Linked DNA regions of Homo sapiens. The protein of the gene in region 2 purifies or fractionates together with the protein of the main gene of each other region. This does not show direct contact. Each region holds a gene or a part of one and is shown on either strand. Other genes may lie near its edges.

What was found. Proteins that work in one complex are often made in the same cells at the same time.
Region 1: the proteins of TCF15 (region 2) and SPATA33 purify together in Homo sapiens (affinity purification with mass spectrometry; one large-scale study listed by BioGRID and IntAct). This does not show direct contact.
Region 3: the proteins of TCF15 (region 2) and FAT3 purify together in Homo sapiens (affinity purification with mass spectrometry; one large-scale study listed by BioGRID and IntAct). This does not show direct contact.
Region 4: the proteins of TCF15 (region 2) and AS3MT purify together in Homo sapiens (affinity purification with mass spectrometry; one large-scale study listed by BioGRID and IntAct). This does not show direct contact.

What each region holds. Positions count from the first base shown.
Region 1 is NC_000016.10:89,664,336-89,667,835, forward strand, and holds part of SPATA33 (spermatogenesis-associated protein 33), read left to right. Parts: intron 1-3,500. UniProt on the Homo sapiens protein: Plays an important role in sperm motility and male fertility. Required for sperm midpiece flexibility and for the localization of sperm calcineurin to the mitochondria. Promotes mitophagy as well as acts as an autophagy mediator in male germline cells.
Region 2 is NC_000020.11:607,510-611,481, forward strand, and holds the start of TCF15 (transcription factor 15), read right to left. Parts: upstream 2,801-3,972; 5' UTR 2,729-2,800; coding exon 2,204-2,728; intron 1-2,203. UniProt on the Homo sapiens protein: Early transcription factor that plays a key role in somitogenesis, paraxial mesoderm development and regulation of stem cell pluripotency. Essential for the mesenchymal to epithelial transition associated with somite formation.
Region 3 is NC_000011.10:92,346,818-92,350,317, forward strand, and holds part of FAT3 (protocadherin Fat 3 isoform 1 precursor), read left to right. Parts: intron 1-3,500.
Region 4 is NC_000010.11:102,893,470-102,896,969, reverse strand, and holds part of AS3MT (arsenite methyltransferase), read right to left. Parts: intron 1-3,500. UniProt on the Homo sapiens protein: Catalyzes the transfer of a methyl group from AdoMet to trivalent arsenicals producing methylated and dimethylated arsenicals.

The DNA of each region.
Region 1 (3,500 bases), on a different chromosome or scaffold from region 2:
AACAAGGTGGCAGGACTCAAGACAGCCCACACGATCCCTGCCCCTGGGAAACAGCCATGTGTAACCCTCCCCTCGAGTGTGGGTGGAATGAGGAAGAGGGAGGTGTGTCTCTCCTGCGATTAGCTCACTCATCCATTGAGTTTGACGTCATCAAAATGCGAGATGATCCTGGATGGGCCCGACCTGATCAGGGAAGCCAGACAGTAAAAGTGTCAGAGGCTCTTTAGGGCCCGACCTGATCAGGGAAGCCAGACAGTAAAAGTGTCAGAGGCTCTTTAGGGCCCGACCTGATCAGGGAAGCCAGACAGTAAAAGTGTCAGAGGCTCTTTAGGGCCCGACCTGATCAGGGAAGCCAGACAGTAAAAGTGTCAGAGGCTTTTTAGGGCAGCGAGAAAACGGGAACTTCATTCCTTGAACCGGGAATAAATTCTGCCTCCAACCAGAATGGGCTTAGAAGAGGGTCCTCCAGCTCCTCATGAGAATGCAGTGCAGCCGGCCCCTGGAATTCAGCCTGCGTCCCAGCCACGCTGCACCTGCACCCCTGACGACGAATGCAGTAAGATGATAAGTGGATGTGCTGGTTTCAGCCCTGAAGTTGGTGGTGATTTGTTGTGCAGCAATAGAAGTACACACAATATGTACCAAGAACCTTGAGAAGAGTCACATTTATTCTTTCTGTTTTGTTTCTGAGATGGTCTCACCCAGGCTGGAGTGCAGTGGCACCATCTTGGCTCATTGCACTCTTGACGTTCTGGGCTCAAACGATTCTCCCACCTCAGCTCCCTGAGTAGCTGGGGCCACAGTGCACGCCACCACCCCCAGCTATTTTTTGTAGTTTTTGTAGAGATGCGGTTTTGTCATGTTGCCCAGGCTGGTCTCGAACTCCAGAGGCCAAGCAATCTGCCTGCTTCAGCCTCCCAAGGTGCTGGGATTACAGGCGTGAGCCACCGCACCTGGCCCAAGATTAATATTTCTTTTTTTTTTTGAGATGGAGTCTTGCTCTGTCGCCACCCAGGCTGGACTGCAATGGTGCATCTCTGCTCACTGCAAGCTCCGCCTCCCGGGTTCATGCCATTCTCCTGTCTCAGCCTCCCGCATAGCTGGGACTACAGGTGCCTGCCACCACGCCTGGCTAATTTTTTGTATTTTTTTTTTTTTTAAGTAGAGATGGGGTTTCACTATGTTAACCAGAATGGTCTTAATTTCCTGACCTCGTGATCCGCCCGCATCGGCCTCCCAAGGTGCTGGGATTACAGGCGTGAGCCACTGCGTCTGGCCTAATATTTCTAAATGAAGAAACTATACTTTGAGGAAGATGAAATAAGTCTTGTTTTAGACTAGAAAATTTCAATAGTGTAAATACGTTAACTTCTGTAAAATCAGTCAACACCAAGTCAAAACACAAAAGATCTTTTGGGAATATGAGCAGATTATTCAAAGGTTCATCTAAAGAATAAAAATGAGGCCAAGTGTAGTGATTCACGCCTGTAATCCCGGCACTTTGGAGGCCGAGGCAGGTGGATCACTTGAGGTCAGGAGTTCAAGACCAGCCTGGCCAACATGATGAAAGCCCATCTCTACTAAAAATACAAAAATTAGCTAGGCGTGGTGATGGGTGCCTGTAGTGCCAGCTACTTGGGGAGGCTGGGGCAGGAGAATCACTTGAACCTGGGAGGTAGAGGTTGTAGTGAGCCAAAATTGTGCCACTGCACTCCAGCCTGGGCGACAAGAGTGAGAATCCATCTCAAAATAAATAAATGAATAAAAATGAAAGCAGTAGGAAACATCTGGAAAACCAGAGGCATGAGGGGGTCGGGCCCTCTGATACTCAAGTAGGTTAGAGTAAAAAAAAGCCAGATATGGTGATGTGGGAATATATGGTCCCATAGGTGGGATCTGTGGTTCCAGCTACTCAGTGAGGTCCGAGGATCACTTGGGCCTGGGAGGTTAGGACTGTAGTTTGCTATGATCACATCCACGAATAGCCACTGCGCTCCTTCCTGGGCTACAGAGTGAGACCCTTCTCTAAAAATGGAAGAAAATGGCCGGCACAGTGGTTCATGGCTGCTGTAATCCCAGCGCTTTGGGAGGGTGAAGTGGGAGAATAACTTGAGCCTGAGAGTTCGAGACCAGCCTGGGCAACATGGCAAAACCGTGTCTCTACAAAAAATTTCAAAATTAGGTGGGTGTGGTGGTGTGTAGGGTCCAGCCCCACAGGGTCGGTGGGTTTTCTCCCCATGTGCGGAGATGAGAGAGCGTAGAAATAAAGACACAAGGCAAAGAGATAAAAGACAGCTGGGCCCGGGGGACCACTACCACCAAGCCGTGGAGACCGGTAGTGGCCCCAAATGCCAGGCTGCACTGATATTTATTGGATACAAGACAAAGGGGCAGGGTTAGGAGTGTGAGCCATCTCCAATGATAGGTGAGGTCATGTGGGTCATGTGTCCACTGGACAGGGGGCCCTTCCCTGCCTGGCAGCCAAGGCAGAGAGAGAGGAGACAGAGAGACAGCTTACGCCGTTATTTCAGCATATCAGAGACTTTTAGTACTTTCACTAATTTGCTACTGCTATCTAAAAGGCAGAGCCAGGTGTACAGGATGGAACATGAAGGTGGACTAGGAGCGTGACCACTGAAGCACAGCATCACAGGGAGACGATTAGGCCTCTGGATAACTGCGGGCAAGCCTGACTGATGTCAGGCCCTCCACAAGAGGTGGAGGAGCAGAGTTTTCTCTAAACTCCCCTGGGGAAAGGGAGACTCCCTTTCCTGGTCTGCTAAGTAGTGGGTGTTTTTCCTTGACACTGACGCTACTGCTAGACCATGGTCTGCTTGGCAACGGGCGTCCTACCAGACGCTGGCGTTACCACTAGACCAAGGAGCCCTCTGGTGGCCCTGTCTGGGCATAACAAAAGGCTCACACTCTTGTCTTCTGGTCACTTCTCACCATGTCCCCCCAGCTCCTGTCTCTGTATGACCTGGTTTTTCCTAGGTTATGATTGTAGAGCGAGGATTATTATAATATTGGAATAAAGAGTAATTGCTACAAATTAATTAATGATATTCATATATAATCATGTCTGTGATCTAGATCTAGTATAACTATTCTTATTTTATATATTTTATTACACTGGAACAGCTCGTGCCCTCGGTCTCTTGCCTCGGCACCTGGGTGACTTGCCGCCCACAGTGGTGCGTGCTGGTGGTCCCAGCTACTTGGAAGGCTGAAGTGGGAGGATCATTTGAGCCCAGGAAGTTGAGGCTTCAGTGAGCCATGATCATGCCACAGCATTTCAGCCTGGGCCACAGACCTTCAAGATCCTGTCTCAAAAAGAAAAAGGGATATCGCTCAGTGCTTAGTGCAGCTGTGGGTCATTCGGCAGCTGACACAGATGAGGCTATGTAACGCAGCACTGCAGGCAGAGGGGGAGGCCAAGGCCTGAATACCCCGTCTGACTAGCCTTAGGCAGGCGACTTGGCCTCTCTGCCTCCCCCATC
Region 2 (3,972 bases):
GGGCCATAGCTGGCCAGGATTGCCCCTCTCGCCTATTCCCAGAGGAGACCGTGGGGTTGAGAGCATGGTTTCTACAGCCAAATTTGGCTGAGTTCTTGGTCCCATAGACAGATCCCAGGGAAGCGGCCAGGCCCAGGGGAGGCCCCTGTGAGCTGTGGGACAGGCCTGAGACCTGCAGAGAAGTCCCCCAGCCTGCTTGCTATGGGGGTGGACACATGACAGTTACAGGGACTTCCCTCTGTAACCTATCCCACGTCCCAACCAGGCAGGCCTGAGTTTGAATCCTGGTTCCATCACTGACTGTGTGTCTCTGCGCCACTGGCAGCACCTCTAAGCAAGTGGGGATAACCACAGCGCCTCATTCCTGGCTGTTGCAGGATTTTAATGATAAATCATAAAGAGCGCTTAGCACAGATCAGTGCTCATGAAGGCTGCTGTCACTGCTGTTATTGGCCATTGTGCTCCCCCTCTGCACTCCTGCCACTTTTAACCTCTTCCCTCTTCCTTCTCTAGGCCTGAGCTCTTGCTGTATGCCCCAATCCTAGAACACCCTTTCCTACCCCTTCATCGGCCTGCCCCTGTTCTAAAGCATCCTTCAGAAATGAGACACAGAAACCCTGTCAGCACTCACCCTGGGTTGGAGGCTTTCTCTGGGCTCTGAGAATCCCTTTGTGCTTCCCCTCCCCCACCATCAGACCACAGCATCCTCATCTTCATCTCCCTGCCCTGACCCTGGGGCTGTACTGTCAGGTCCTGACTGGTGGAAGGGTGGGGACCTACAACCTGCTTCTCTGGGGTTCTCAGAGCCAACAGAAGGCAGCTGTTGGGTAGCTAAGGGTTGCTAACTGGAATGAATGGGTGAAAGGCAGTCAGGGAGTATCCCTGAGAGCCCCTTCAGGCCCTCCCATCCCAGGAAGCCTTAAAGGCCCACTCCTGGCTTCTCAGCCCAGCCTGGGGCACTGACAGGGGCCCACAGCTGGGAGCAGCAGGGACCCTGGAGAGGGCACAAGCCTGAGGCTAAGAAGACCGACGATTCAGGGCAACTGAGGCAGCCAAGTGTTGAGCAACCAGGCTGGATATCTGATGAGCCAGACAGAGGGTGGTCTCAGGCCAAGATGCAGAGGCCTCCGCAGAACAGGGTGGAGCAAGGGACCAACGGCAGCTGTGAGAACCAAACAGCAGGGAGTCAGGGGCCTAACTCCAATTCCCCATGCCCTTCCACTTGGCCACCAAAAGTCAGTACTCTCTCAGCCTCAGTTTCCCCGGATGTAAATGGTAGCTGCTGGAATACAAGTTGTTAGACAGGCTTCTTTACTGTAGGAAAAGCCCAGGCCAGAAAGGCACACGGTCGGGGGATGAAGCAGGTTCCTTGGAGCCTGGGCAAGGTTTCAGCCAAGAGGCCACCTCTGCTGCCACACAGCCCCCGCCCACCCCTACCAGCCTGATCCACTTTCTTGCCCAGGACACATTGCAGGAGCTGCACACCAGCTCCCTCCAGCTGACCCAAGAGTGCCCTCTCCCAACACCACGTCCTTTTGGGGGCTGGGGACTCTCAGAGGGCCCCTTCTTCACTCCTACTGCTCATCCGCTGGGTACCTCAGGCTCTCGGTTGGCGGTTTGTGGCCTCCTTTCTTCTCAGTCTCCTGCTCTTGGGTTAGATCTTAGGACAGGGGACAATTATTTCAAGGTGGGGGCAACACACACCGGGCAAGCCCAGGGCCAGCGCCCCGGCTTCCCAGCTGAGTAAATGTGGGCAGGTGATCCCATCTCTGATGCTCAGATCCTCATCAGGATAAAATGGGCAGAAAAACTACCTGCCTGAAGGGATTCTTGTGAAGGCAAAAAAGTGGATGTGGAGCGCATCGGCACAGAGGAAGACTCCATAAAAGATGGGTCTTTGTTACTCAGTCCTCATGCCGTCTTCCCAGCAGGAAGGAAGTTCCAGCACACCTTTCGTTGGAGGGGATATCCCACACTGAGCAGTTAAATCAGACCCGAACTCTGGGTTTTCCCGCATCCTTCTGTTTGGGGGCCTGGGCATTAAGTCAGTGGTTCTGGGCTTGGGGTGCCGCACCCAGCACGAATTCCACGTCGCTTCCCCCTGGCCTCGTTGGGGACCCCTGCACCTCTCCGGTTCCCGCAGAGGCGCTGCCCCCCGCCTACCCCGACCTGGCGGCCGCAGCGAGGGACGCAGCACACTCACCCCCTTGCGCTGGTTGCTGAGGCAGAAGGTGCAGATGGAGCGCGGCTGGCGGCCGCCGTCGGCGGCGGCGGGGACGGCGCCCTTGGCACTGCCCGCGGCACGGAAGCACGGCTGCCCGTCGTCGGCCGAGTCGCCCAGCAGCAGCACGTTGGCCAGGTGCGCGATGTAGCTGGACGCCAGGCGCACGGTCTCGATCTTGGACAGCTTGCGGTCCACCGGCTCGGTGGGGATGAGCGTGCGCAGCGCCGTGAAGGCCGTGTTCACGCTCTGAGTGCGGTCCCGCTCCCGCGCGTTGGCCGCCTGCCGCTGTCGCACCACCACCACGGGGCCCGCGCCGCCGCCGCCGCCCGCCCGCCGCCCGCCCCCGGGGCCCGGGCCGCGCCGCGCCGCCTCCGGGCCCTCGCAGCAGCCGAACGACTGGTCCGACGCGTCGCTCTCGCTGCGGTTCTCCTCGTCCTCGCTCAGCAGCCGCACGTCCGGGTACAGCACGTGCGCGCCGACGGGCCGCAGCAGCGCGAACGCCATGGGCGCCGGCCGCGTCCCTCCGTGCGCCGCGTCCCAGCGTCGGCCGCGCCCCGCCGTGCGCTCCCGCGCGCTCCCACGGCCCCGCCGGCCCCCGCCTTATAGGCGAGGGAGGGGCCAATGGCAAGGCCGCCCCGGCCGGGGGCGGAGGGCTCCGCCCGGCCAATGGGGAGGCGTCCGCCCGGCCAATGGGGAGGCGTCCGCCGCGCCCTGGCCAATGGCGACGCTCCCACCGCCTCCGTCCCCCAGGTTGAAAGCGGCCCGGGAGCCGGCGGCCCACCCCGAAGGCCCCCGTTCCCGGCTGGCTAGCCCGGCAGATGCTGGAGGTCTGGGAGGGTCGGCCGGGGTGGGCCCAGATCCGAACTTTTTGTCTCCAGCCTGGACCACCTGGGAGACGCGGGCAGATCCCTTTCTCCTCTCTGGGCCTCAGTTTCCTCGTTCGGAACGTTCAGATTGCAGAGAAACAGCTAGTGTCTGCCTGCCCTCCAATTCTAATCCTGTAGTTCTGCAGCTTTCACGTGCGTAAGAACTGGGGAAGGGGCTTTTGCTATTACAGAGTCCCAAATTGCTCCCATTCTGATTGAGCAGTTCTGGAACGGGCCCAGGAACCTACATTTTGTAACAAGCCATTGGTGATAGTGGTGGTGTCCGTGGAGAACACTTGGAGAAAAGCTATAATCTTTCCAAATGAGGATTCGACAGTGTCTTGTCCCTGAAGACAAACTTAAAAAGAAGAAGAAAAAAAAAAGCAAAACAAAACCACAATACACAAACACCAGTAGTTCGTTCGTTTTTTCAACAAATATTCGTTGGGTCCCTACTATGTGTCAGACATGGTTTTAGGTCTGAGGATACAGCCATTAACAAAATAAATTCTTCACCCTCACGGAACTGACGTTTTGGTTAAGGAACTACTGTGTACCAGACTCGGTGCTATATACTCTATTGCGCCCAGCTGAGGCTGCAGGATGGCAGCCCTGAGTTACAGGTCAGAGAGCTCCGGCCTTCAGTCGTACAGGTGGGAGTGGCGGCGCTAGCTCCAGCCTGTCCGGTTTCACTACCTCTTGGAATCCTACCACCACCATCCCATCACACACACACGGGCTATCTTTCCTCAATGCCTGCTTGCCTTCTAGAAACCTTAGATTGTTCAGCCTGACGTGTCCTCTTCAGAGAATTGCTGAGCCAAAGGTGGTTGCCGGGGTCTCGATCTCACTCGTGCCTGCTGCTCAGCTCTCTCCAGGCAC
Region 3 (3,500 bases), on a different chromosome or scaffold from region 2:
CTTTGCTTTTAGTAAAGAAAGGACATTCTTTCCTTTACCTTTGATGGGTGTTTTTTTCTACTGGAAAATAAAACGTAGAGTAGGTTGTAAATTTTACTCCCTGTCTTGTGATTCCCAGATTTTGTCTTCTCTAAAATCTGCCTTTATTAATGATAATAGCTAACAATTATATACAATGTGCCATGAAGTGTTTTAAGTATTTTCCATTTATTAACTCAAATCCTATTCGGTAGGCATTATTGTTCTCATTTTATAGAAGAATAAACTGAGGTGCAGAGAGGTTCAATAGCTTGCCTGGGGTTGTAAAGCTAGTAAATGGCATAGATAGGATTCAAATGCAGGCAGTCAAGTGCCAAGGTGCATGTTCTGTAACCATTGCATGCTCTGCCTTTGTGTTGGCATTGGCTCTGGCACTGCATACACCAGAGCAGAGACTGATCTTCCATTTGCAGTTTGAACACGGGTCACCTTCCTCAAGGACTCCTGTCAAGGGGACTCTATATTGACTTTGTTCTTTGCTTTACAGCCTAACATAGCAAATTTCTTGAGTACCCTCCCGATTTGGCTAACAAAATCCCCTCAAAATAGAAAAGATAGGAAGAGAGGGAATGAAAATGAAATATATTTTTAAAATACCTTTGGTAGTGTTCAGAAGTCTCACCAATTTAAGCAGACCAGATTAATGTTGGCAGAAAACAGCTTTATCAGGTTACCAAAGCAAGCATAGGTACCCTACAGAGCCAAGGCTGTCCCAGAGAGGTAGTCTCTGTGATTGCTGTTCCCTGCCCCCAAGGTCTCTGGTATTTATTCATCCATGGAAAGAAAAATCTGCATGCCCTTCTGAGTCCCACAGTAAGATCCATCCTAACAGAGCAGAAGGGCAGGATGGGGAGGCACACCAGGAATGCCTCTGAAAAATAAATGTCTCAAAGATTGATGGCTTGATGATCTCTTTGGAGATTATATCAAAAATTATTGATTATGTTAGTAAGTCGTAGAAAATAGGCTCTGAGGTTGGGAACTAAGTGCTTTCTTTAAAATAATCTAGAAGCAGTAGAATAAATCAATGTGCAGAGCATCTAAAATACTGTATCATATTGGCTTCACAAATAGCTTGGCTTCAATGTGGAAAGGGCAATATTATTTTTAAAAAAAACTTCAACAGTTGTCTTGGCATGCTAAAAAGAAAAGAAGACAAAATTCAATTCTATTATTTGCTTTGCAAAATTTTACAACATTCCTAGCTTCTAGCATTCATTTATTTCCTAATCAGTGGGAAAACTGCAAGGCTTTTTAAAATAATTTGTGCCAGATAGGGCTTTTTTTTTTTCCTTTGCCACAATAAAGATACAAAAGCCTTAAAAGATATTTTGTTTTCAACAACTGAATTTGACAAACTTAGTCCTGCTCAGTTTTTTGGTGGTAGGTCTGAATTTCAGTATGTGATAATACTACTCCATTTATGCTTGTTTTGAAATATTTTCTATTTGCATTTAAGACCACCGATTCCGGTTTTTAAGAAAACAATTCCAGCAATGTATCTTGCTGAAAGAAAAACTCACTATGCAAAAGCACCAATTTTTGAATAGTTAAATTGAATGATACATTTTCATATTATGATAGCATTCTTTGCCTTGAAAGATTCACAGAAAGATTTGTAAAAAGTAACTATCCCCTTAGGGCACTTTAATGTTTATTTATAAACAGTTAACTACTTAGAGGAAGAAATAACACCAGGGAGAGTAATATGGTGTCAGAAAAGGAAGATGACTCCAAAATAATGATAAACCACAGCTCTAAAATTTTAATGTAACTTAATGAAAACTAATTCAATTGAAGCGTGTTTCAGTTTGGTATTAGCTCTGAACCTGGGAAACTTGAGTCCTGGCATTAGGGGAATCTCTTCATTTTATGGACCCTGGTTTCTTCATCTGTAAACTCAGGAGATTGGAACAGATGATCTTTAAGGCTCCTTTGAACCTGTATAATTTCTTGATTCAGTTTCCTGAAGTAAGATGTGCTTTTTGTTGGGGAATAGGAAACGGAGCATATTAAAGGCATCTGGGCCTCTGGTTACATTAGTACTTAGGGTTCTGTTCAACAAACCAGTGTTGTTTGCTTCCTGTGTGGTGGGTGCTGTACTGGATGCTGGGAATAGAGTGATGTACTTCCCATCAGGTTTCCTTAAGTAGAAGTTCAAAGTGTGAATGAGGGGGCAGACTCAGAAAAGTTCAGTTGAACTGTATTTTTCATGGGGGAAGTTTTCCTCTCTGATGACCATGGAGTCTAGACTCCTTGGGCTAAGGATCGGCAAAATTACTGTTACAGGAAGTCTTCTCAGCACAGGATAGTGAGTGGGAAATAAGGCAGAAACTTTATTTGTATTTCTCTGGAGCATTCTGGGAGTGATCCCAGTATTTCACCTTGAGAGAGTGTAACCTAACCTTCACATTCCCTTACGAGAGACTCGCTTACTTTACCGTGTTCACATGTCCACAGTGAGCCTAAAAATGTCTCCACTGCTTTGGAGCCTTTTGAGATGATGAAATAGAGACTCCTGAGGCATACAAAATACTATTAAAGCTTCTGCTAGTGTACTTCTGTGATCACTACAGAGAGGTTCTTTTGCTCCCATATTTCAGTTGACTGTGCTCTACAAAGTAGACACCCCAATCACACTGTGGGCTTCGCCACTCTGCTAGGTAGGACATTTGAACCTACTGCATCCAGAAAACCCCAAATGTATCATTTTCTTAATAAAGTTTCCTTTGAAATGACCAGCAGCCCAGTGATGTCTTTCTAGGAACTTACTGAGCAGGGTCACCAGCGGCCATCTGACTTGGTCCCTGCCCTAGTTACCAGAGCTGCTGTCCACAGGCTGCCTGTTCCACTTACTTAGCATATGCAATGTCTCTAAAGAACTGCATGTGAAATTAACTTCCTTTATAGACGCTTACTCCCTTTTTCAGCTTTTCATTTTTGCTGTCTATTAATGCCTGTAAAGTCCCTAAATTAAACTTGACTTTTTCTATCTGTAACTCCATGTTTTCTACGGGATACTTCAGCAAATGATAGCAGCAAGATATCTTACATTCCCAGGCAGAACCAGCATTTGCATGCTCAGGGTTTCACTTCAGGAGAGTCTCCTGTAAGGTGGAGCTGAAAAAAAAAAAAAAAGAAAAGCCTTGTGGGGTATGGAGAGAGCCTGAGCTCTAATCTAGAGTCTGCTAGACTCTATCAATGACTATTAAATTTAGACAGTTTCCACAGTTTCATGACTATGTGGGTTAAAAGGTAAAAACTTTTTCCTATTTTAGCCAGTAAAATTAATCAAGGAGAGGGGAGAAAGGAGGTATTCAACAAGAAAAAGTTAAGTCTATTTAGACTTAACTAATAAAGTCGAGATAGGAAAATGAGGTTTTATATTATCATTAACAAAAAGGTTATAATAATATGTGCCTTGCTAACCTTGGATATGAAAGGGTTTTATAAACCATACA
Region 4 (3,500 bases), on a different chromosome or scaffold from region 2:
GTGACATATTTTTGAAATGTTTAATGGATTGAATACTCAAAAGCCAAATCTGTCTACTTTCCAAAGTATCACCTTCTTCGAACAACAGAAGAGTCAGAATAGCAGAGTGCTGAAGAATTTAATAAAGCAAAGAAAGTAAATCACTCTTTTTTTTTTTTTTTGAGATGGAGTCTCACTCTGTCACCCCAGCTGGAGTGCAGTGGCGCGATCTCGGCTCACTGCAACCTCCGCCCCTCCAGGTTTAAGCAATTCTCTGCCTCAGCCTCTGGAGTAGCTGGGATTACAGGCGCATGCCACCACGCCCGGCTAATTTTTTTTGTATTTTTAGTAGAGACGGGGTTTCACCATCTTGGCCAGGCTGGTCTTGAACTCCTGACCTCGTGATCCACCCGCCTCGGCTCCCAAAGTGCTGGGATTACAGGCGTAAGCCACCGTGCCCGGCCTAGTAAATCACTCTTTAGCTCTACAGGTGGCTTGTATACTGAGCTTGGGTTAGATTCATGCTGGTAATACTGGCTCCAGGTTTTGGGGTCCAGGATTCTTATATTTTAGGTTCGATTAACCTTCCCCAACTACAAATGTACCATTTTTGAAAGTGATTTCTCAAAAAGCTTTGTGCTTTTTTTTTTTTTTTTTTGAGGCAGGGTCTTGCTCTGTCGCCCAGGCTGGGGTACAGTGTTGTGATCACGGCTCACTACAGCCTCCACATCCCGGGCTCAAAACGATCCTCCTGCCTCAGCCCCCCAAGTAACTGGGATTATAGGCATTTGCCACCGTGCCCAGCTAATTTTTGTATTTTTAGTACAGACACGGTTTCAGCATGTTGGCCAGGCTGGTCTTGACCTCCTGACCTCAAGTGGTCTGCCAGCCTCAGCCTCCCAAAGTGCTGGGATTGGCCGGGCACGGTGGCTCATGCCTGTAATCCCAGCACTTTGGGAGGCCAAGGCAGGTGGATTACCTGAGGTCAGGAGTTTGAGACCAGCTTGACCAACATGGTAAAACCCCGTCTCTACTAAAAATACAAAAATTAGCCGGCTGTGATGGTGCGCACCTGTAATCCCAGCTACTTGGGAAGCTGAGGCAGGAGAACCGCTTGAACCCAGGAGGCGGAGGTTGCGGTGAGCCAAGACCGCACCATTGCACTCTAGCCTGGGCAACAAGAGCGAAGCTCTGTCTCAAAAAAAAAAAAAAGCTGGTATTATTGGGGTTTTTTGTTTATTTGTTTTTGTTTTTTTGAGATGGAGTTGTGCTCTTGTTGCCCAGGCTGGGCAACCTAGGTGGGTGGATCACCTGGTGGCGTAAGCCACCACACCCGGCAAAGCTAGTATTATTGTAACAATGGTTTGTAACTCTACTTTTTGTTTTCCACATGATTTAAGAGACCAATGCATTTAAAATAATTATTAGTTTACGTTTTGGGGGCACAAAATGAATAAAGACATAATTTTGTGATATCAAGAACTAGAAAGACCCGGGCGTGGTAGTTCACACCTGTAATCCCAGCACTTTGGGAGGCCGAGGCTGGTGGATCATCTGATGTCAGGAGTTCGAGACCAGGCTGGCCAACATGATGAGACCCCGCCTCTACTAAAAATACAAAAAATTAGCCAGGCATGGTGGCTGGCGCACCTGTAATCCCAGCTACTTGTGAGGCTGGGGCAGGAGAATCACTTGAACCCAGGAGGCAGAGGCTGCAGTGAGCCAAGATCGTGCCACTGCACTCCAGCCTGGGTGATAGAGTGAAACTCTGTCAATGGAAAAAAAAAAAAAAGAACTAAAATAGTTGAGAACAAGCTTTAAAGGAGCAGAATTTTAGTATGTTATTGAAGTTAAGCTGTATAAATTCAAATTAGGGTGTCATAACTGTAGGATGTTAAACATTGTCAACAAAAAGGGTCAAACTCTAAAATACTTAAAAAGATTTATTCTGAGCCAAATAAGTGACCAATGGCCTGTGACACAGCCCTCAGGAGATCTGCAAACATGTGCCCAAAGTGGTCACCCTATAACTTGGTTTTATACATTTTAGAGAGACATAAGACATCAATCAATACATATAATATGTACATTGGTTCAGACCAGAAACGTGGGACAACTGGAAGTGGGGATTTCCAGGTCACAGGCAGATTCAAAGATTTTGTGATTGGCAATTGGTTGAGTTATAATCCAAAGACCTGGGATCAATAGAAGGGAGTGTCTAGGTTATGATAAGAGATTGTGGAGACCAAGGTTTTATCATGCAGATGAAGCCTCTAGGCAGCAGGCTACAGAGAGAATAGATTGTAAATGTTTCTTACCAGATTTAAAGAGTCTGTTCTATCAGTCTTAAGATCTGTTTTAATGGTAATGCTGGTCAGCAGTGTCTGAATTCCAAAAGGGAGGAGGGAATAATGAGGCATGTCCAAACTTCTCCTTCCCTTCGTGACCTGAACTAGTTTTTTAGGATAACTTTGCAATGCCTTTGCCCGACAGGAGGGGTCCGTTCAGATGGTTGAGGGTTTATAATTTTATTTTATTTTTTTATTTTTTTATTTTTTTTTATTTTTTGAGATGGAGTCTCGCTCTGTCGCCCAGGTTAGAGTGCAGTGGCATGATCTCGGCTCACTGCAACCTCCACCTCCCAGGTTCAAGGAATTCTCCTGCCTCAGCCTCCCAAGTAGCTGGGACTACAGGTGCCTGCCCCCACGCCTGGCTGATTTTTTATTTTTAGTAGAGACGGGGTTTCACTATGTTGGCCAGGCTGGTCTCGAACTCCTGACCTTGTGATCCACCCGCCTCGGCCTCCCAAAGTGCTGGGATTACAGGTGTGAGCCACCGCGCCCGGCCTAGAATTTTATTTTTGATTTACTTTCTCCGCATTCTGGCCTAGATTTGTCAGAGGCAACATCAATGGTCACCAAACTTTTATTTTATCTCACTGTGTTGCTGGGGTGGCACAGCTGCCTTCCCTGGGTCCATCTTGTGCCTTGGTGGGACCCCTATGGTCAAGGGGCTTAGAGCCAAAAGACACATAGCGAATTTGAAAGTTCTAGGCCAGACCAGGCATGGTGGTTCACCCCTGTAATCTCAGCACTTTGGGAGGCCGAGACAGGTTGGTCACCTAAGATCAGCAGTTTGAGACCAGCCTGACCAACATGGTGAAACCCTGTCTCTACTAAAAATACGAATTAGGGCTGGGCACAGTGGCTCATGCCTATAATCCCAGCACTTTGGGAGGCCAAGGTGGGTGGATCATGAGGTAAGGAGTTCGAGACCAGCCTGGCCAATATGATGAAACCCCATCTCTACTAAAAAAATAAAATAAAAATTAGCCAGGCATGGTGGCACGCACCTGTAGTCCCATCTACTCTGGAGGCTGAGGCAGAAGAATCGCTTGAACTTGGGAGGCAGAGGTTGCAGTGAGCCGAGGTCGCACCACTGCACTCCAGCCTGGGCAACAGAGCAAGACTCCATCTCGGAAAAAAAAAAAAAAAAGAAAAAAAAATTAGCCAGGCATGGTG